3 separate regions of the Homo sapiens genome follow, and all the other regions are linked to region 1. The links come from fine-mapping of genetic effects on plasma protein levels. Region 1 holds a variant in brackets. A gene starts in each other region. All regions are shown on their forward strands. Distances are between the middles of the regions.

Region 1 (5,998 bases):
TGAACCTGGGAGGCGGAGGTTGCAGTGAGCCGAGGGCCATTGCACTCCAGCCTGGGCAAAAAGTGAAACTCTGTCTTAAAAAACAAACAAAACTGAATTCTGTATCGGTTTAGATCTTTAAATCTTTGTTCATAGGTTTTATTTTTCCTAATCCTCTCTGGATTCACTTTCAGAGTGCTTCTCCAGTGCTTTACAGACTAGACTTCTAATTCTGTACTTTGTCTTACCTTAATATTTTAAAACCATAACCAAATCCTAAATTCTAAGCCTCATTAAAAAATCAGGCCATCCAAAGTGCACAAGGATATGAGTATGTATGGAGGAGGAAACTATGCAGAATATGTCAATGACTTTAAAGGTTGATGTTGCTCCTTGGCCTTTGCTTCCTGAATCATCTTAATGGGGCTTTTGTTAAATTCCTTTGGCCCTAACAGTAGAGGTACTTGGCCTAAATGCCCCCCTCCCCCTGCTCTGGGCAAAGGTATCAATTACATTAAGCCCCTAAAGCACTCCCATCTCGTTCCTGGCAGTCCCCTGTGCCCCTCTCCCAGCTGCGTCCTTGCTGGTGCCTGGCCCCCTCCATTTTGTTAGGAGAAGCAATCTCCTCATTCCTGCGCTGTGGAGATATATTTCTCAGCTAGGGCGCGAGCAGTGCCAGCACTGCCCCCGGTGAGGTCCCTGGCAGCAATAAAAATTTTTATTGTGATTATGTTGGTGTCGGGGTGTCCATCTGGGTTATTGCACACCTAGTTTAATTGATTGAAGTTTAATTTATTGACACTTCAAATTAAATGATCAGAATAAACTGTGCTGTTACTCTGGCCAGCTTGTTTTAATGGTTGATTGCTGGAAGCAGACCTCGGCTTGAACTAAAACCCCCAAAGAGCAATTGACGCTGCTTCTAACTCTCCCCATGTCTTGCCCTCCAAGAAGACCTTGTTATAGATTTCCGACGTATTTATATATATTTTTTCCCTCTTCTTCACAGTGGTGGGAAAGAGTTGGTCCCTGGCAAGGTATAAATTATATCAAAGATCTAGGGGAGCTGTCACATGGTCAGAAGAGGAGGAGGGGGCCTCCATGTGAGGAAAACCAGACCCTTGAGAAGCCAGGTCTGCCTTGGGAGGCAGAGGATGAGTGCAATTATCCAGGTATTTGACGGAGCCTAGTGGCAGGTTTAGGGTCTTTTTTATCTAGATACTTGCTGCTGTTTCTTACTTTACTCCATTGACATGGCTTGATTAGAGTCTGGATGTTGACAAGAAAACAGGTTGTGGAAAGGGAAACTAGAGGAGCAAATCAGATGGAGCAGGGATAAAGAATCAGTACCTATGTACCCACTTGTGCTGGAGTAATTAGGAAGAGGAAAGGCAGAGTGCCCAGGGGACAGCTGATGAAGATGGATTCAGAGAATGAGTCCATGCACTTGTAAGATGCTTGTGCTGGCAAGGGCCCTCTCACATTCTGTCCCTCCTGTTTTTGGGCAGAATAGGTTTCCTTACATCAGATTATTAGGGGGATCTCTCCTGGCCTTACATTCCCTAGCCTGTGTCACCTCTTCTGGTGTTTGACCACACCCATCTCTTCAGGAAGTCCTTCCTGTTGTGTAATCTAAGTTATATATGCTGCAGATGAAGCCTGCTTTTTTATTTGGCTTTTTATTTTCACACTCTTTTTTTTTTTTTTTTTTTTTTTTGAGACAGAGTCTTGCTCTTGTTGCCCAGGCTAGAGTGCAATGGCATGATCTTGGCTCACCGCAACCTTTGCCTTCCAGGTTCAAGCGATTCTCCTTCCTCCGCCTCCCGAGTAGTTGGGATTACAGGCCCCCACCACCATGCCTGGCTAATTTTTGTATTTTTAGTAGAGACGGGGTTTCGCCATGTTGGCCAAGCTGGCCTCGAACTCCTGACCTTGTGATCCACATGCCTTGGCCTCCCAAAGTGCTGGGATTACAGGTGTGAGCCACTGCGCCCGGCCTATTTTCTCACTCTCAATGCAGATATCCCATCCATAGCCAATTGCCCTGGATAGCTCGGTCAACTAATTTTCTGCAACTCCTTTTCTGTTGTGTGGTTTTAGAGGGAGACTAAAACCAGAGGAGAATAGAGCAATTCTGCCTCGGGGTTGATTTGGGGGCATAAATAGACTGAAAGATAACACAGAGTCTGTCAATTCAGTCTCTCAGAGACTAGCTTTTTGTTTTCAGGAGCAAAAGCAGGGAGATGTGGGGGGGAGTAAAGGGATAAATCATGATACAAATCGTGACCCAGGACTCATCAGGAATGGATCTAGCCCCTTTTGATTTTTTTCCTTTGCTGAGTGTTATTTAAGTGAGGGCTCCTGGATTACCAAACTGAGAAGGCAGAATGTTCTAATGGTGCTCTCAGGCCTCAGGTCTGGAGTATAGTCTGATTTCTCCTTATTCAGTTCATCTCTCTTCCCAGCAGTACTGCTTTGTCCCTCATTTCTGTGATTCTTTCACTTCCATGATAGTTGAAGAATTAGGGACTATGTGACCCCTGGGTAAAAAATCCTCCAGCAAGGCCGGGCGCGGTGGCTCACGCCTGTAATCCAGCACTTTGGGAGGCCGAGGCGGGCGGATCACGAGGTCAGGAGTTTGAGACCAGCCTGACCAACATGGTGAAACCCGTCTCTACCAAAAATACAAAAATTAGCCGGTCATGGTGTCACGCGCCTGTAATCCCAGCTACTCAGGAGGCTGAGGCAGGAGAATGGCGTGAACCCGGGAGGCGGAGGTTGCAGTGAGCCACTGCACTCCAGCTTGGGCGACAGAGTGAGACTCCGTCTCAAAAAAAAAAAATTTTCCAACAGACAGGCTTTCTGAGTTTTGAGAAAGGTCCTGAGACTTTGCATTCCTAAAAAGCTTAGGGTTTGGTTGTCTTTGTCCTGCCCATTTCACAGTCATCAAATTCAGCCATTGAAAGCTGGAGGTGGCTGGGCATGGTAGCTCACGCGTGTAATCCCAGCACTTTGGGAGGCTGAGGCAGGCGGATCACCTGAGGTCAGGAGTTCGAGACCAGCCTTACCAACATGGCAAAGCCCTGTCTACTAAAAACACAAAATTAGCCAGGTGTGGTGGTGGGTGCCTGTAATGCCAGCTATTTGAGAGGCTGAGGCAGGAGAATCGCTTGAACCTGGGAGGTGGAGGTTGCAGTGAGCTGAGATTGC[A/G]CCATTGCACTCCAGCCTGGGCAACAAGAATGAAACTCAGTCTTAAAAAAAAAAAGGGAAAAAAAAAAAGAAAGCTGGAGGGAGCGTGGTTGCTGACCTTTATTCCCCCTGCTGGCTGTTAGTTTTCTCAATCATATTTATTAATTTATGAAGGCCACACACACATTTATTGAATTTATCCAGCATTACTGGATGCCAGGTAGAGTAGAGGGGGTGGTTTACAAAAGTATCACTCATTTCCCCTCTTTTTCCTGCCCCCTCCACACCATCTTATTATCTCCAGAGAGAATCTCATTTAATTCTAAACTCGGCTCTGTGAACTCTTTGAAATCATAAAAAAATTATTTTTATTTATATATATATTTTTTGAGACAGAGTCTTGCTCTGTCATCCAGGCTGGAGTGCAGTGGTGCGATGATCTTGGCTCACTGCAATCTCCATCTCCGGGGTTTAAGCAATTCTCATGCCTCAGCCTCCTGAATAGCTGGGATTACAGGCATGCACCACCATGCCCAGCTAATTTTTTTGTATTTTTAGTAGAGACAGGGTTTCGCCATGTTGCCCAGGCTGGCCTCAAACTCCTGAGCTCAAGCTATTTGTCCCCACATTGGCCTCCCAAAGTGCTGGTATTACAGGTAGGAACCAGCATGCCTAGCCATGAAATCATAAAAAAATTTGTGAATGTATTTTGCTGGGAATAAGGTCCATAGATGTAATTGGTTTATCAAAGGGGTCTGCTGTAACTCAAAAAAGGCATTAACCTTAACTGATCTAGGTCAAGCCTCTCATTTCTCTGATGAAGAAGCTGAATCTCAGAGAAAGGGAAAATTTGAGTTAATGGCTGATCCCCATTATAGTACAAGTATTGTAGCCAGGCATGGTGGTGCATGCCTGTAGTCCTAGCTATTTGGAAGGCTGAGGCAGGACTCCTTGAGCCCAGGAGTTCAGGTCCAGCCTGGGCAACATAGCAAGACCCTGTCTCTATTTAAGAGATGGATTGTAGGAGTTTAGAGACATTTTCTCCTGTAATATCAAAACTCTTGTTGACTGTGCTTTACATGTTTTGGGTCTGTGTCAGATAGGAAGATTGTAGGTGTCTCTTCCTGCCGTCAGTTCTTCCCGAGTCATGTGTTGAGTTTTTTCTTTATAACCAATATTTGGTCTCATGTCAGCTGGGTAGTGTTCTGTGGTACCAGTGGCTCCCACTCTTTCCTGAGCTGTGCTTTTTGAATCTAATCTTGTGTGTATACAGAAATAATTAGCAGGGTGTGGTGGCATGTACCTGTAGTCAGCTACTTGGGAGGCTGAACGGGGAGGATCGCTTGAGCCTGGGAGGTTGAGGCTGCAGTGAGCTGTGATGGCACCACTGCACTCCAGCCTGGGTGACAAGAAATAATAATAATATTAATAAATCTGATATAGGCTGGGCGTGGTGGCTCATGCCTGTAATCCTAGCACTTTGGGAGGTCAAGGTGGGCAGATCACCTGAGGTCAGGAGTTCGAGACCAGCTTGGCCAACATGGCGAAACCCCGTCTCTACAAAAAACACAAAAATAAGCCAGGCTACAAAAAACACAAAAATAAGCCGGGCGTGGTGGGAAGCGCCTGTAATCCCAGCTGCCTGAGAGGCTGAGGCAGGAGAATTGCTGGAACCCGAGAGGCAGAGGCTGCAGTGAGCCAAGATCACGCCACTGCACTTCAGCCTGGGCAACAGAGCAACACTGTCTCAAAAAAAAAAATCTGATATGTAAAAACTGCTCTTCCCTGTCAAAGACTTTAGCTAATTCTTCTTTTCTTTTCATCTGAAGTCTATCGGATTGTGGCTGGCAAATTGGAGCCCTTAACCCCAGAGGAGCTTTTAATTTTAAAAAAGTTGGCACAGGCTGGGCACGGTGGCTCATGCCTGTAATCCCAGCACTTTGGGAGGATGAGGCGGGTGGATCATGAGGTCAGGATATCTAGACCATCCTGGCTAACACGGTGAAACCCCGTCTCTACTAAAAAAAATACAAAAGAATTAGCTGGTCGTAGTGGTGGGTGCCTGTAGTCCCAGCCACTCGGGAGGCTGAGGCAGGAGAATGGCGTGAACCCGGGAGGCAGAGCTTGCAGCGAGCCGAGATCAGACCACTGCACTTCAGCCTGGGCGACAGGGTGAGACTCCGTCTCAAAAAAATAAAAAAATAAATAAAAGTTGGCACAGAGGCCAGGTGCAGTGGCTCACACCTGTAATATTAGCATGTTGGGAGGCCGAGACAGGCAGATTGCCTGAGTTCAGGAGTTCAGGACCAGCCTGGGCAAGATGGTGAAACTCCATCTCTACTAAAATAAAAAAAATCAGCTGGGCATGGTGGCAGTCACCTGTAATCCCAGCTACTGAGGAGGCTGAGACACGAGAATTGCTGGAACCCAGGAGGCGGAGGTTGCAGTGAGCCAAGATTGTGCCACTGCACCCCAGCCTGGACAACAAAGTGAAACAAAGTGAAACTCTGTCAAAAAAAAAAAAAAAAAAGTGTTGGCACAGAGTCAGGAAGTATACCTACTTAGCCATTTGGAGCTGGGAGTGGTATCTAGGAATTTCTCCTTCTAGTTTTTACCTTCTTAGTTTTACTTTATAAACAGGATTGAGACAAGAGAATCTTGTTACAGTTTTTAATTCACCAAGACCCATTGCCACATCAGGGTAATGCCACATCAGGCCCTTTTGGTATGGCCTTAGGGAATGTTTTTTTTTTTTTTGATCTGAAGTCTTGCTCTGTCGCCCAGGCTGGAGTGCAGTGGTGCGATCTCAGCTCACCGCAACCTCTGCCTC
Region 2 (8,285 bases), 41 Mb after region 1:
CTGGCTTCAAGTGATCTTCCTGGAGTGCTGGGATTACAGGTGTGAGAAACCATGCCTAGCCTCTAGTGTCTTTTTTTTAAGGTTGACAATTTACATTTCCAATAGTCACTCACGTAATTTTAAATTTTCTAGTAGCCACATTTTAAAAAGTAAAAAGAAACAGGTAACAATCAATCTTAATGATGTTTTTATTTAACTCTATATAAAAATTATCATTTCAACAATAAATATAACATTATTGAGAAACTTTAGTATTTTTGTATTAAGTTTTTGTAATTCAGTGTGTATTCTAAATTATGGCATAACTCAATTTGGACTAGCAGCATTTTTTTTTTTTTTTTTGAGATGGAGTGTTGCTCTGTCGCCCAGGCTGGAGTGCAGTGGCACCATTTCCGCTCACTGCAAGCTCCATCTCCTGGGTTCACGCCATTCTCCTGCCTCAGCCTCCCGAGTAGCTGGGACTACAGGTGCACACCACCACGCCTGGCTAATTTTTTGTATTTTTAGTAGAGACAGGGTTTCACCTTGTTAGCCGGGATGGTCTCGATCTCCTGACCTCATGATCCGCCTGCCTCGGCCTCCCAAAGTGCTGGGATTACAGGCGTGAGCCACCGCGCCCGGCCTGAACTAGCAGCATTTTAAGTGCTCAGTGGCAACGTGGTAGGTGGCCACCATGCTGTGCAGTACAGGTAGACTCTCATGTCTAGATCCACTTGCTGGATGATCTTATCTGTGTCAAAGTTCCAATTCCCATCTATTAGTTGATGACTCAAATTTTTATATCTGCTCCAACTATTCTTTTGATCTCCAGTTCCTTATAGTTATCCACCTTCTTCACAGCTCCACTTTAATGCCCCAAGACACCTCAGACTCAGCATGTCTCACATCTAACTCATAATCTTCCCTTTCAAATCTGAAATGTTTTTCTATCTCTGTTATTTACATTACATTACCAGTCAATCCAGTTTCACCAGCACACACCGAAGGGGATTCCTTGATATCTTCTTCTCTCTCAAATCCCTTATACAATTCATCACCAAGTCTTGCCCATTTTATCTCCCACATATCTCTTAAATCTATTCATTTTTTTGGTCATACCCATCATCATTCCCTTTCAAGCCACTATAACCTATTGACTGTAATAGCCTCTAAACTGATCTCCCTGCTTTCATTCTGGCCACCCTCAACTCTACTCTGTACACTGCAGCCATGGTGATCTTTTCAAAAATCTAATCATGTTAATTGCAACTCTCATCAGGTTAACTGTCTCCTCACCATTAAAATACTTAAGGGGGCTGGACACAGTGGCTCATGCCTATAATCCCAGCACTTTGGGAGGCTGAGGAGGGCGGATCACCTGAGGCCAGGAGTTTGAGACCAGCCTGGCCAACATGGTGAAACCCCGTCTCTACTAAAAATACAAAAATTAACTGGGTGTGGTGGCGCGTACCTGTAGTCCCAGCTACTCGGGAGGCTGAGGTGGAAGAATTGCTTGAATCCGGGAGGCGGAGGTTGCAGTGAGCCGAGATCATACCACTGCACTCCAGCCTGGGCGACAGAGCAAGACTCCATCTCAGAAAAAAATAAAAAATAAAAATAAAATACTTAAGGGAGGTAGGTGGATCACCTGAAGTCAGGAGTTTGAGACCAGCCTGACCAACATGGTGAAACCCTGTCTCTACCAAAATATACAAAAATTAGCTGGGTGTGGTGGCATGTGCCTGTAGTCCCAGCTACTTGGGAGACTGAGGTGGGATAATTGCTTGAACCCAGGAGGTAGAGGTTGCAGTGAGCTGACATCACGCCACTGCATTCCAGCCTGAGCAACAGAATGAGACCCTGTCTGAAAAATAAATAAAAAAAGTAAAATAAAATACTTAAGAGTTTTATATTGTTCTTAGGACAAAGTATAAAGCCCTTAGTATGATCTAAAAGGCTCTGTCAGCTCTCCTACCCTTTCCTTCCTGCAAGGCTCTTACCTTTCTAGTCTCATCTCATCACACTCACTCCCTTCTCCACCTCTTTGCATTCCAGCCATTCTGGATGTTTTTTAGTTCTTTAAATGTGTTATACTCCCTACTGTTTTACAGATGAGAAAATCAAGGCTCAAAAATATATGGGCTGTCCAGAGTCACAAAATTATAGCCAAATGACCATTCTAGTATTAGAATCCATGTCTCCTCTTAAATACCTCTTAAATTTTTCTTTACCTTCCCTTTGCCAAGAATACTCTGCCAGGCGCAATGGCTCATGCCTGTAATCCCAACACTTTGGGAGGTTGAGGCAGGTGGATCACCTGAGGTCAGGAGTTTGAGACCAGCCTGGCCAACATGGTAAAACCCCGTCTCTACAAAAATTAGCTGGGTGTGGTGGTGGGCGCCTGTAATCCCAGCTACTTGGGAGGCTGAGGTAGGAGAATCGCTTGAACCTGGGAGGCGGAGGTTGCAGTGAGCTAAGATCAGGCCACTGCACTCCAACCTGGGTGATAGAACGAGACTCCGTCTCAAAAAAAAAAAAATACTCTCTCTAAACCTTTCCCCTCCCCTTTGCCTATTTATCCTTCAGATCTCAGCCTAATTGCTACTTCCTCAGGAAACTCTACCAGGCCATCCTACCTAGGCAAGTCCCTTTGTAATATGCTCTCATAGCAGCAGTTGTAAATTTGCTTTTATTAGCATCATTGCTTGATGTCTATTTTTGTTAACTGGCTCTATGATGACAAGGATCATCTCTGTTTTTGCTCTCTAAATATTGCCAGATCTAGGTTTATAGTAGGCATTGAACGAATGGATGGATGAGTGAATAAGTGAATATGTCAGCCAAGCAAAGAGCAGCCCAGATAAAAGTAACAGTGAGTTTGAAATGCTCCAAGGTCAGAAAGAGCTTTGAGAGCTGGAGCTATAATAGTAAGAGAGTGGAGACATTGGAGAAGTAGATATGGCTGGGTCTTGCCGGGCATTTTAAAGGATTTTGGACACATGGAAGCTACTTCTATTTTTATTTTTGTGGTATTATGTTTGGTTTACCAACTTTTTATTTTTTATTTTATTTACTTTTTTGGGGGGGATGGAGTCTCGCTCTGTCGCCCAGGCTGGAGTGCAGTGGCGCAATCTCAGCTCACTGCAACCTCCCCCGGGGTTCAAGCGATTGTCCTGCCTCAGCCTCCCTAGTAGCTGGGACTACAGGCGCCTGCCACCACGCCCGGCTAATTTTTGTATTTTTAGTGGAGACGGGGTTTCACCATATTGGCCAGGCTGGTCTCGAACTCCTGACCTTGTGATCTGCCCACCTCGCCCTCCCAAAGTGCTGGGATTACAGGCGTGAGCCACAGCGCCCGGCCGGTTTACCAACTTTTATATTGCCAGCAATCAACTAGGGAAAACAATTTAAAATCTAAATAGGGATAGATTTAAAGAGATAAAGATCTGTACAAGAATAAGAGGAACAGTTTTTATTACTATTGGATAGGTGCTGCCTGAAGCTTTAAGACAGAGAATGTACATTTATGCAGCTGCAGTCAGAGCCTGTGTGAGGTTTACTGTAAACTCACTGGCAATAAGGCTCTTAACGACATTTTGATGCCCATGAAGCTTGGTGCCTAGTTTAAAACTAATGAAAACACCTAAACTCTCCAGGTGGACAAAGCCATATTCAGGAGAAATTGAGAAGGAGTTGGTGCAGGCAGCCAATCACAATCCACTTACGCCACAAACTAAATCTCAAACTGCGGTTTGAACATGAGGCTCAAAACATAAGAAGTAAAGAAATGGGCAAAATTCAATTAGTTTCTGGTGAAACGTCCTAAATCCAAAAGAAAGGTGACCAGAAATAGAGAAAACGGAGTGTGATCTTTTGCATTAATGAGAGAGACCGTGTCCCCGTGTGTTAAAACCTGTCATTCTTGTCCTGAATTGGAAAGTGAGCGGAGTGTGACGGGTTCCCATCTTGAACCGTCCGGGGTTGAGTAGTACAATAAACTAACACGGAACTCCAGCTTCCAAAATTCTCTCCAGTGCCTACAGAGCCTCGCGGAGAGCTGTGATTGTGAATGTCAACGCAGATTTGATTAAATCTCTTAGATTTAAGAGATATGTGGAGTCATGACAATAGAAATGTGTACAAGTGAACACATTTCTTAGCCCGTTTCCCCACTGCCTGTGTGATTTATAAAAACGCAAATATAAAATATTTCCGTTCCAGCAGAGACGCCGCTTGCTACGGCGGGTTGCCCGTCTCCACAGGTATCTCCGGCTGACTCTAGAGCTCAACTTCCCCTTTAAACTTCACCCTGCGCTTGCCGATTTGCTTCGGGAATGCCCGAGGCACCGGACGAAGCAGTCGGGTCTGGCCCCAGTCGACTCCAGCCAGGCGGGGCTCCAAGCCGAGACTCCTGCACGCCCGGCCCGAAGCTAGCCCGACACCCTCAGCTGAGTCCTCCGCCGTCCCAGCATTCCCTGCGTCCCTACCATCGAGAGCAGCTTCCGGCGTGGCTGGTGTAGGCGGGTGGAGAAGGATCGGGGCCCTCGCCGCTCTGTCTCATTCCCTCGCGCTCTCTCGGGCAACATGGCGGGTGTGGAGGAGGTAGCGGCCTCCGGGAGCCACCTGAATGGCGACCTGGATCCAGACGACAGGGAAGAAGGAGCTGCCTCTACGGCTGAGGAAGCAGCCAAGAAAAAAAGACGAAAGAAGAAGAAGAGCAAAGGGCCTTCTGCAGGTAAAGAGAGTTTTATGTTTTCCCAGTCCCCTCCGGGAACGGCTGAACTGTTTGGCTCAGGCCCGTTGAGGGGGCCGGGACCGGGGCCCCAGAGCCCCGACTAGACTGATTCTTGGGCCTGACAGGGTGGCAAAGCCGGGCTATAGATTCCTAGTCTGAGAAGAGGCGTCATCTCCTCCTGTGGGACTAGAGGGCTGGTGGGGGAGAAAAGAGTGCCTGAGGTTGGCGTGTGGTACCTCTGGGGTCGCTGGGCCCGAGCCCCTGTATTACCAGAACTCAGCTCCCACGCACATCGTGGCACGGTCTTGAGATTGTGCGCAGAGCACAGCCCTACCATCTTTCGCGCGATTTGGCCGCCGCCTCAAAAATCCGATTCTGATCCGTATTGCCGCGTCTTTGCTGGTTTGCTGGAGCAAGCTAGGACTTATTTTCTTTGGGGGTGGGCAAATGTAATGGAGAGCACACCTCCTCCCACTATCCCGTTTCACGTTGGGGTTGTTGCAGCCTGCACTTTTGGGGTGTGTGTACATGTGTGTTTGCCCGCGCGCTCATGTCATTAATTGCAGAATTTGTGGTGGTGATAACGAATTTTCACCTGCCTAATCCCATAGCATCGCCAAGCTTTAGGGCCTTTAGACCTGAATTATGATACCAATTGCAGGCAGTGCAGATAGGATATTCTGTGGCTCAGAATGGAACTTCTGAGGTCTTAACCTCTAAATCCACTGGTAAGGCAAGGAGAACTGCTGAGAGTTTACAGTTGGATATTATGAACTAGGAACTTACATATTTTGAGAAGTCTGTGTTTTTGCTGCACAAGCTCCTTCACCTTAATAAAAATTATTTTTACTTGTTTCTAATTAAAATCGCCAGAGAAACAGAAAATGGAGAAGTCAGAAGCGATTAAGATGGAATTGAGAGAGGTCGAAGAGAGCTAATCTTCATCTTTCTGAAATTTTGATTAGATAGGAATGGAAGGAGAGTTGTAGCGTTGCTGGAACTCTTCCAGAGCAAAATTTGTTACTCTGGTGGCTGTTCCTGGATTTCGAGTGAAATTCAAACACTGCTGTTTGTCTTGTAAGGTGTTAAGCTGACTGATCCTAATGTATTTTTAACAGTTGTATTTCTTAATATGAATTCTCTCCAGTAGCCAGAATGTCACTTCATTTCGTGCTACCTGATACTATTAATGCATGTAACATATTGCTCTTATAGGTAGGTTATAATCACTTCCAGAGCAGGGGCCTGGTCTTGTGCTTAGATATTTGAGCGTTTTAGTTTTTTAGTAATGGACTGTCTTTGCCTATTTATTTTGACTTTACCCAGCCCATCGTGATATCCTTATTCATGAAACCAGGCTGCCCCGGGGTGTTGCACATGAATCTTTTTCCTAAGGCCTTCAGCATTTATTACCTATCTGGTGTTTAAGTATTTGTTAAGTCTAATTGCTGACCACTATTACAAGTTAAACTACTTGAGGATAGAGACCAGTTCACGCTGTTTATCTTTTAGCTGCTAGTGTGTGTAATGGATATTTTGTTGAGTAAATTAATGAATGGACAATACTGTGTAGGTATGGAAGATTTTTCTGTCATTAAACGAATTCTGTTATGTTCACAATAATGTTTCTGTTTTTGTTTCCTGAGGAAAGGATTTGTAAGTTTTCCAAGATCATTAGAGCATATTCTAGTGGGAAAGTGTCTGTATTAGATTTGATTTCTGCTATTTTATTTTGATCAGCAGGGGAACAGGAACCTGATAAAGAATCAGGAGCCTCAGTGGATGAAGTAGCAAGACAGTTGGAAAGATCAGCATTGGAAGATAAAGAAAGAGATGAAGATGATGAAGGTAAATGGTTAATTTGATCTTTGTGGTTAGAAAAGCTAGAAAATGTAGCCGGGTGTGGTGGCACACACCTGTAATCCCAGCACTTTGGGAGGTCGAGGCGGGTGGATTACATAAGGTCAGTAGTTCGAGACCAGCCTGGCCAACATGTTGAAACCCCATCTCTTCTAAAAAGACAAAAAAAAATTTAGCCGGGTGTGGTAGCACACACCTGTAATCCCAACAACTTGGGAAGCTGAGGCAGGAGAATTGCTTGAGCCCGAGAGATGGAGGTTGCAGTGAGCTGAGATTGCACCACTGCACTCCAGCCTGGCCAGCAGAGTAAGACTGTCTCAAAAAAAAGAAAGAAAGAAAGAAAGAAAGAAAAGCTAGAAAATGTGATATTCCTTAATCAAAATTTATTTACTCGTATAGTGTTTTCTCTGACATTTCACTTGTTACCTCAATTAATGTCACAGATTAAAAAGGAAAAGGTATTTATTAGCAAGTCTTGAAAAAGTTCAATGTGTTAATTAGCTGTTCAGATAGGACAGATCTCAGAGTTTAAAAATATACTTGGTAGAAGGCAAAGTAGTGAGTATTAATAAGATTGAGGGGTTGTTTATTTAACTAATACTTACTGAAGAACTACTATGTACTAGATACTTTCCTAGGTTATTTTCACATACATTCACATTTTAACCTCACAAAACCAAGCAAAGTAACCTACTTGTGCTTAGATATCCATTTTGTTTTTTGGTAATGGACTGTCTTTTCCTATTTATTTTGACTTTACCCAGCCCTTCATGGCTTTACCCAGCCATCTCATTTTACAGATAGGGAAGTGGTAGTTACATGATTTACCCAAAGTGACATAGCTAATATGTGTAGAATAGAGCCAGAATTTCAAACCTAGTGCCTGACTGCACGTTTGTTCCTTTTACTCTCTATTTTTTTTTTTCTTTTTGAGACCGAGTCTCGCTCTGTCGCACAGGCTGGAGTGCAGTGGCGTGATCTCGGATCACTGCGACCTCCCGAGCTCAAGCAATTCTCCTGCCTCAGCCTCCCGAGTAGCTGGGATTACAGGCGCCTGCCACCATGCCCAACTAATTTTTTTGTATCTTTAGTAGAAATGGGGTTTTGCCAGGTTGGTCTTGAACTCCTGACCTCAAGTAATCTGCCCACCTCAGCCTCCCAAGGTGCTGGGATTACAGGTTTGAGCTACTGTGTCCGGCCTGTTCCTTTTACTCTCTATACCAAAATTAACTCTTTTCATTCTGAAAGAATCGTATAGGAGTGCACTAAGTTTTATTATAAATTCCTTGACCCTAGCTCCTTCTGGGTGTTTGGGTACAATAAGATTTTTTTAAAGACAGCAACTGCTAATTGATGTTATCAGTAAAACAGTGAAGGAAGAGACAGGTAAGAAAACTTAACTTTTTTCCAGCCTCTTTTGGCGGAGGAAAAATGGGGCTTTCCCATTCTTTTTATTTGTAGCTGCCTACTACTGAGAACATCTGCTCCCCCTCAAGCACCACCAGCCTGGGGTTAGGTCTTTAACCATTAGTTGGGGCTGTAATTATTGTGTTAGGGTAATGTAGAGTAGTTGTTTTCCTTTAGAGTGGTATGTTCTCTGCCTTCAAGAAGCTTATAGTGAACATTTGGTGGAAAAAAGTGCCAAGATTCAAGGGAATTACTAGCTTTTCCTCTTCCTTAAACCTCTGTTCTACATTGGCTTATGCTTTAG
Region 3 (8,285 bases), not on the chromosome of region 1:
AGTCTCATCCAATCAGTTAGAAGCCTGAATAAAACAAAAAAACTGATCCTCCCTGAGTAAGAAAGAATCTCTCCTGCCTTCTGATCTTTTGACTGGGACATCAGCTTGTTTCTTGCCTTCAGACTCAGATTGAAACACTGACTCTTCCTGGATTTCAAGCCTGCTAGCCTCTGGTCAGGAACTATGCCATCAGTTCTCCTGGGTCTCCAGCTTGCTGGCTCATCCTGTAGACTTGCCAGCCTCAGTGATCTTGTGAGTCAGTTCCTTATATGAATCTCCTTATATATATACCCGTATACATACATATATCGTATTGGTTCTGTTTCTTTGGTAAACCCTAATACAATATTTATATTTCTTTGTTTTTTTTTTTAGACAGGGTCCCACTCTATCTCCCAGGTGGGAGTGCAGTGGCGAGATCATGGCTCACTGCAGCCTCAACCTCCCAGGCTCAAGTGATCCTCCCACCTCAGCCTCCTGAGTAACTGGGACTACAGGCCATGCCATCACGCTTGGCTAATTTTTGTATTTTGTGTAGAGAGGGGTTTTGCCATGTTACCCAGGCTGGTTTTGAACTCCTGAGTTCAAGCAATCTGCCCACCTCACCCTCCCGAAGTGTTGGGATTACAGGTGTGAGCCACCGCCCCGGCCAATATTTATATTTCTCAGACGCATCCTCTTTTTTCCATGTTCACTTGTGCAATTTTAGTTGATGTCCTTCTTCTTTCCTGGACTATTGGAATAATTTCCTTGTTCCAGTGTCAGTACATCCAATTCACCCATCCCCTCCTTGCTTCTGGAGTGCTCTTTCTAAATACAAATAGGCTAATGACATTTTGCTTTTAAACTTGTTTAGCACGCTATTTCACACCTTCAAGATGAAAGTCAAATTCATTAGATTGGTGGATAAAGTCCTTCCCAATCCAGTCATTTCTTCATCTCCAGCCACGCCACACTACCTGCCACTTCTTGCACAGAGCAATCTGCCTTAGCCTCTTGGTCTTGCACTCTTGTATGTTCGGGTACTTCTGCCTGGAATGCCTCTTTCTTATTCAATCAGGAAACTCTCATAACAGGTGTGTGTGTCTGACATTAAGTGTCACCTCCTTAGCATACATCTTGGATTTACCTCCCTGAAATCCAGGGGTGAAGGAGTCAGGGGTCTTTTTCTATTCATTGCCTTCAATTGAGCATACTTGCAGGGTGTGTTAATTCCTTGGCACTTTAGGTCTTCCCAAAATGCAGGCAGAGCAGGCTCTGGTGGACAAAGATAGCTGATAATGCAAATAACTTCAGGTGCCGGCAGTTGGAAGTTGGCCCAATGTGCAGAATGTTCTGTTCAGGGGCATGTGGGCTTGGCCTAACAGATCTGTTATAGCCCTAATATCATACTGTTGTTGGTTTTTCAATCAATGCACAAAGTTGGAAAGATATAGAGCTGACCCTGAACAACAGGGGTCTGAACCAGTGTGGGTCTACTTATATGCAAATTGTTTTCAATATATACAGTTGGCCCTCCATATCAGTGGGTTCCACAACTGAAACCAAGAATAGGTGGAAAATACAGTATTCTTGGGATGCGAATGGTCATATCCACAGGTTCCACAGGGCCAACTGTGGGATTTGAGTGTATGTGGATTTTGGTGTATACGAGAGGTCCTGGAACCAATCCCCCATGGATACCAAGGGATGTCTGTAATTTTATTTACAAAAAGAATGCAAATTCTTGACAGACTAAAAATGAGAATGAAACTAACAAAATTAGGAGGGGGAGGGGAAAAGACGAGAAAGTAAGAATGTACCAATTCCTCACCTCTCCTAGTAGGGAGCCAATATACAGTGTGTAAAATTTATAAATAATGATTTAGGTAAACAACCTAAAGTCATGAAAGCTTCTAGCAAAACTAAAAGTAATACAATTTTTTAAATTAGGAGTTAAGAATAAGTTTTTGTCCCTTTGAAGGATTTTCAGCTGGTGAGTCAAGATGTATATGTACAGTATTTAAGGTTATAATGAAAAGAACCAGAAGAACTAAAACCAGAAATTGTTAATTGCAGTTGGGTCTAGGATATGGTAACAGATAAGGTAGGTGGGTAGGTAGGTAGAGTAGCAGGGAGACCCTTACTTTTCTTTTAATATGTTCCCCCCTTTTGTTTGGATTTTTAACGATTATTATGCATTATTTCCATAACAAACAAATGTAAATAAAGTGTAGTTTAACTACAAAAAGTAACTTTTAGAACACCCTTAACAAATATTTTGTAGGAGTCAAATGAGGTAGGATCTATACGGTATGCATGAACATCAAAAAATGATCAGGACTTCTTAAGTCAAGTTAGTAAACTAAAAGATAATAGGCATAGGATCCAAATTACAGAGAGGGAGGAAGTATGTGTGTGTATGTAACATATCTATGTACAGTTGACCCTTAAGCAACATGAGGTTAGGGGCACAGACCCTCACAGTCAAAATTCCATCCCCCAAAACTGTAGTAACAGCCTACTGTTGATCGGAAGTCTTACCAACAACATAAACAATTAACACTTTTTTTTTTTTGAGATGGAGTCTTGCTCTGTCACCCAGGCAAGGAGTGCAGTGGTGCAATCTCGGCTCACTGCAACCTCCGCCTCCTGGGTTCAAGAGATTCTCCTGCCTCAGCCTCCCGAGTAGGTGCGATTACAGGCACGCACCATCATGTCTGGCTAATTTTTATCTTTTTAATAGAGACGGGGTTTCGCCATGTTGGCCAGGCTGGTCTCAAACCCCTGGTCTCAAGTGATCCGTCTGCCTCAGCCTCCCAAAGTGTTGGGATTACAGATGTGAGCCACCGCACTCGACAATTTTGTATGTTACATATGTTATATACTGTATTCTTATAATAAAGTAAGCTAAAGAAAACGTTTTAAGGAAATCATGAGGAGAAAATATATTTACTCTCCATTAAGTGTAAGTGAATCATCATAAATGTCTCCGTCCTCATAATTTTCACCTTGAATAGGCTGAGAAGCGGGGGTTGGCTTTGCTGTCTCAGGGGTGGCAGAAGTAGAAGAGGTGGAAGAGGAGGCAGGAGAGGGAGGCACAATAAGTGTAATCTGATGGAGATACATCATAATTTGTCTGACTTTTTTGCTTTTCCATTTCTCTAAACATGTTTCCATTTAGCACCAATTCTTCTTCCACCATTTGCTTTAGATTCAGTGCCTGTTTCATAGAAAAGTCCATGTTATAAGAGAAGTCAAAAGCCATATTGAATAAGTGGAACCCTTCTGCCAGATTGTCTAATGTCAATTTGTTTTCTGGCACTGCTTCGTCTTCTTCCTCATCGTCTGGCACTGGGTTCAGAAGGAGTCATCTCCATCAAGTGGTCTTCTGTTAATTCCTCTGGTGTGGTGTCTCTTAGCTCTTGAATTTCTCCAAGATTTGTATCTTGAAACCTTTTTTGCCATATCTGCAATCTCTTTCATGATTTCCTTGATTGGCTCTGTCATAAATCCTGTGAAGTGATGCACAACATCTGGAGTTCCTCCAGCAGGAATTTGTTTGGGCTTGATGGCTTTTCATGGTTTTTTCTGAAACAACAATGGCATCTTCAATGGTGTAATCCTTTCAGACGTTCATGATATTCTCTCAATTGGGGTTCTCTTCCACAGAGTACTGTGTGTAATGATCCTTAAAGTCCTTATGACTCCCTTATCTAGAGGTTGAATTAGAGGTGTTGTGTTTAGGCGCATGTAGACCATTTCAATGTGTTTGTATTGAACTCATGGGGTTCTGGGTGGCCAGGGGCATTGTCCAATATCAAAAGAACATTAAAGGCAATCCCTTACTGGCAAGGTACTTCCCGACTTTAAAAACAAAGCATTTATATAACTGATCCAGAAAAAGAGTTGCTGCTCAGCCATCTTGCTGTACAACCAAAAGAGTGGCAGGCAGTGTTTCTTTTCCCTTCAAGGCTCAATTTTATAGATAAGGGCAGTCCTGATCATACATCTGGCTGCATTTGCACAAAACAGTACAGTTAGCCCATCCCTTCCCGCCTTGGATCCTGATGTTCACTTCTCTTCCTAATAAATATCCTCTGTGGCACTATTTTCCCCCAGAATAGGGCATTTTCGTTTGCCTTAAAAACCTGTTCAGGCAGATATCTTTTCTCCTCAGTGATTTTCTCTATTTTTTTTTATTTTTATTTTTTATTTATTTTTTTTTGAGAGAGTCTCATTCTGTCTCCCAGGCTGGAGTGCAGTGGTGCAATCTCACTGTAACCTCTGCCTCCTGGGTTCAAGCGATTCTCATGCCTTAGCCTCCTCAGTAGCTGGGATTATAGATGTGCACCACCACACCTGGCTAAATTTTGTATTTTTAGAAGAGACAGGGTTTTGCCATGTTGGCCAGGCTGGTCTCGAACTCCTGGCTTCAAGCAATCCACCCACCTCAGCCTTCCAAAGTGCTGGGATTACAGGCATGAGCCACAAAGCCTGGCCTTTTGTCCTCAATAATTTCCTTAATGGTATCTGGGAACTCGTCGGCTGCATCTGGGTCAGCAGAAGCTGCTTCTCCTGTTATCTTGACATTTTTTGAAAGCCAACCCACTTTTTAAAATTATCATACCTTCCTTCATCTTCCTTTTGCTTTGTCAGATAATGACTTCACTTTTTCTTGAATATTAGATTATATAGGTATGCCTTTCTCATAGCAATCCTGCACCCACAAAAAGCTGCATTTGCAATATGAGATAAAAAGGTATTTCCCAAAAAGTGCAAGGTTTTCATGCTTGTTGGTGTAGCTGCAGCGATGGCTTCATAAACTTCCTTTTGTTTTTATACCACAGTCCTTATACTGGATTCATTTATCTTAAAATGGCAGGCGACCTTAGCTGCAGACCTCAATCTACAATACACAGCAAGCAATTCCGCTTTTTCTGTAATGTCATTAACTTTTCTCTGATTCTTGGGAGCATTTCCAGCACCACTAGCGGCACTTCGTAATGGTCCCATGGTGTTACGCAAGGTTTACAGTACTGCAGTGAACACAACGAGAAATATGTGAGAACCTCAAGAGCTTACCTTTTACTGTGATATGCAATGTACTGGAGAGATCAACTGCTCACTCAGAGATGATTATGTTACTTGGAATTTTTAGCCAATACCAGCAACACTGACGCTCACTGCAATAGCAACAGGAGGTGGCTACAAAATCATTACAGTAGTACTCTATGTACTACAGTGAATTTGATGCAGTTATTATTTAATATTGCATCTTTACAACTGTTTACACCTCTCTTGAACCTAATGGGTGCCATGTAACTGTCTGTTTGTACGTGTAAGTTTTGATAAATTTTAACTTTTTATAACAGGCTTGTATATATTTTATGATAGTAAATAATAAAATGGCCTAGTATCTACATATATTTTATGCATTCATGACATATCTAGCTTTTTCTTTTCTTTTTTTTTCCATATTTCTTGGCTAAGCGACTCATCTGTGAGGTTTTTCACAAAATTGTTGCCATCGCCAAAAATATTCCATTTACTGAAAAAAATCCACATATAAGTGTACTCACGCAGTTCAAACTAATGTTGTTCAAGAGTCAACTGTATAAAAGGTATTAATATGTCTGGAAAGAGATATGTTTCCAATTTAACAGACACTACCAATGAGAAGAGTTGGGCTAGGCAGGAAACTTCAAATTTTCCTTTTTTACTTTATATATTCTATTTGTATCTCAACTTATAACCTGTGGACCACGTTTATTAGAAGAAAATGCAGATTCCTGAAACTTCCTGCAGACCCCATGAGTGACAATCTCAGGGAGATGGAGTTCCAGAATCTGCTTTTTTTCATAGATGTTTCTTTGCCATTCCTGTGTATATCTGAGTTTCAGTAGCACTGCTAATCAATTGTTTGGGGTTCTCTCTCCTTCACCAGCATGTTCTTGCAAAACTAACCAAACACATATAAAGCGCAAACAGTACAATAGTGCACTGCACCTTCATGACCCTTACCTGTTCCAGCCTCTTCCTACCTCTTCCACATGTGATATGTGTGTACATACCCACAGACAGAAACACAGAGACATGTTTGGAAGCCAGTGTGGATGCCCTGTGATCTGTGTGTACACATGACAAGTGCATACACACGCACATAAAGGAACCCAGAGACGTGTTTGGAAGCCAGTGTGGACACCCTGTGATCTGTGCGTACACATTTGACACCTGCGTACACACTCACAGACAGAAACACAGAGATGTGTTTGGAAGCCAGTGTGGACATCCTGTGGTCTGCGCGTACACATGTGACAGGTACGTGCACGCCCACATACAGGAACACACAGAGGCCTTTGGAAGCCAGCATGGGCAGACAGGCCCTATCCCAAAGCGGCCGGCAGGCGTCTCCTAAGAATGGTTCTCGGACACACCTCTGAAAGGAAAATACAACTCGGCACCGCAGTTGACTCGGCCAAAGGAAAAAAACTTAAGCTGAAAGCTGAGGCCTGCCCGAAGGAGCCTTTCCTGTGGCGCCTGAGCCGAGGGCTTCAGGGAGAGGGCCGCGCATCGCAGCGCAGCCGCCCGTCTTCCCGTGGCTTCCCTACGGCCGCGGCTCCCGCTGCTCCTTTCCGCCGGCCACGCGGGTCGCACGACCTTCCCCTCCCGCCCACCCTGAGGCGCTGAAGCCCTCGACGCCGGCCTCGGGAAAGGCGCGGCCACCGCCCGTTTCGGATTCCCGTTTCCTTCCTCCGGGCGCGTCCTTCACCGTGGCCAAATCAGCCTCTCAACTGCTGGAGCCCGGCCTCGGACACTTCTCGGCTTACGCCGCCATACAGTGGCGCACCCCGAAACCCCGGAACCGACAGCTCGGCTGGCCTTGCGCACCCACACTCTCCAAGGCAGGGCTCGGTCCGGGGGCTGGTTTTGCCAAGGCGAGGGGCGAGGGGCAGCCCAGGCGGCCGGATGGATACCAAGAGGGCGCGTCAGCTCCGGCGGGACGGGGCTTCCAGGGCCCGGGAGGGGTCCAGGACTCCCCGCCGGCGCCTGGCTGTCGGCGGAGGGCCGCGGGGCAGGAGGGAGTGGAGACTGCGGCCCCAGTTCGGGCAGCGCGGAGCCCACCCAACGCCCTCCTCGGCCCTCGGCTCTTCCTGGGGCCATCCCGCCCCTGCACCTCGGCCTGGCACCTTTCCGGTTAGCCTCGGAGGCCGTGGCCGAGCAGGGTGCGTTCGCCTGGCTGGGGGGCCTCAGAACGTTATTTCCGGGTGACAACCTGCAGGGCCTTCCGCCCCTCGCGACCTCTCGGGAGTCCCTTCCCCGGCGCCCCCCCGGGGCTGCAGGGGCTGCAGGTTCGGTCTCGGGGCCTCCTTACCGCAGTCCGCCCGGCTTTAGGCTAGTGGGCTTTAACTACGTCGATAATATGACTCCGGCGATCTTGTGCGGCGATGGGATGCGGCCGTGGGCGGTGGAGTCCAGGCGGAGTCCGCTCTCCACACGCGAGGGCGCCTCCTCCTCACCGCTCGCCGGCTTCAAAGCTCGCGCCTCAGGCGACGGCAGCCAACGGGTTGCCGGCTGGAGGCCCCGCCGACGCCCCGCCCCTTGCGTGCCCACCCGCGCCCCGCAGCCCCGCCCCCAGCGCCGACCCTAAGTTTCGGCGCTCAGTGGTCCGGCGCTCCCCAAGGCTCGGTGTCCAGCGTCAACCCCGAGGTCTCTATGCCCCGCCTCCCGACGCCAGGGGGCAGGGCCAGCGCGCTGCGCGTCGGGGCGGGGCTTTGGCTGCGTCGGCCGCGTAGCCCGCGCGCGGAGCGTACCCTGCTGCGGCCGTTGGCCGTTAGCGCGGCTTCGGCGGTTGTCTTGGAGAAGCAAGATGGCGGCGACGGCGGCCGCAGTGGTGGCCGAGGAGGACACGGAGCTGCGGGACCTGCTGGTGCAGACGCTGGAGAACAGCGGGGTCCTGAACCGCATCAAGGTGAGGCCGGAGGCTGGGGCCGGGCCTGGCGGATCCGCAGGGCTTGCGTGGACAGCGGGCGTCACAACGGTCGCGGCGAGGAGGCCGCCTCCCTGGCGAGGGACCGGGGCCGGCGGGCACTGGGGGCGCGCCCCGGCATGGCCTCCGTCCTGCCCGCCCCACAGAGGGGGTCGGCTCGTTCGTTCGTGTGGTCCCGGAGGGCACCGCGGACTGGGGGTGCCTGGCCCATCCCCTGCCTCATTCCGTGGGGGCGGGACCGCGGGGCTTGGGGGCCACACGGGCGGCCCGCAGCTGGGCCCTGGAGTGCGGCCCCAGCGTCTCTTCCTCAGGCTCG

Which allele goes with the higher level. Alleles are on the strand shown, and positions count from the first base shown. The strength of an association depends on the size of the effect and on how common the allele is.
With allele G in place of A in region 1, the plasma level of the protein whose gene starts at base 4,536 in region 2 is higher (weak association).
As copies of G replace A in region 1, the plasma level of the protein whose gene starts at base 7,834 in region 3 goes up (weak association).

The links. PIP is the posterior inclusion probability: the model's chance that the variant is causal. The UK Biobank Pharma Proteomics Project read protein levels with antibody pairs (Olink). The fine-mapping took linkage between variants from a reference panel, not from the people measured, so its PIPs are less certain.
Region 2: METAP2 starts here. The variant in region 1 is fine-mapped to the plasma level of the METAP2 protein (UK Biobank, PIP 0.98).
Region 3: it holds the start of CEP43, and the variant in region 1 is fine-mapped to the plasma level of the CEP43 protein (UK Biobank, PIP 0.95).

What each region holds. Positions count from the first base shown.
Region 1 is chr12:54,329,502-54,335,499 of GRCh38, forward strand. The region is part of intron 1 of COPZ1 (coat protein complex I subunit zeta 1); the gene reads left to right. Among named protein-coding and RNA genes, the nearest start is that of MIR148B, 4.7 kb to the right of the region's middle. RefSeq lists enhancers at 1-380, 381-1,070. The variant A/G (reference allele first, on the strand shown) is at 3,190.
Region 2 is chr12:95,469,617-95,477,901 of GRCh38, forward strand. METAP2 (methionyl aminopeptidase 2) reads left to right here and starts at 4,536. Exons shown (of 11, transcript NM_006838.4): 1 at 4,536-4,714; 2 at 6,455-6,562. The coding sequence starts at 4,564. RefSeq lists an enhancer at 4,353-4,752.
Region 3 is chr6:166,991,564-166,999,848 of GRCh38, forward strand. It overlaps CEP43 (centrosomal protein 43), which reads left to right and starts at 7,834. Exons shown (of 13, transcript NM_007045.4): 1 at 7,834-7,951. The coding sequence starts at 7,850. It overlaps MIR3939 (microRNA 3939), which reads right to left and starts at 6,349; the gene lies at 6,244-6,349. RefSeq lists an enhancer at 6,316-6,365 and silencers at 6,906-7,135, 7,426-7,945, 8,036-8,195, 8,206-8,285.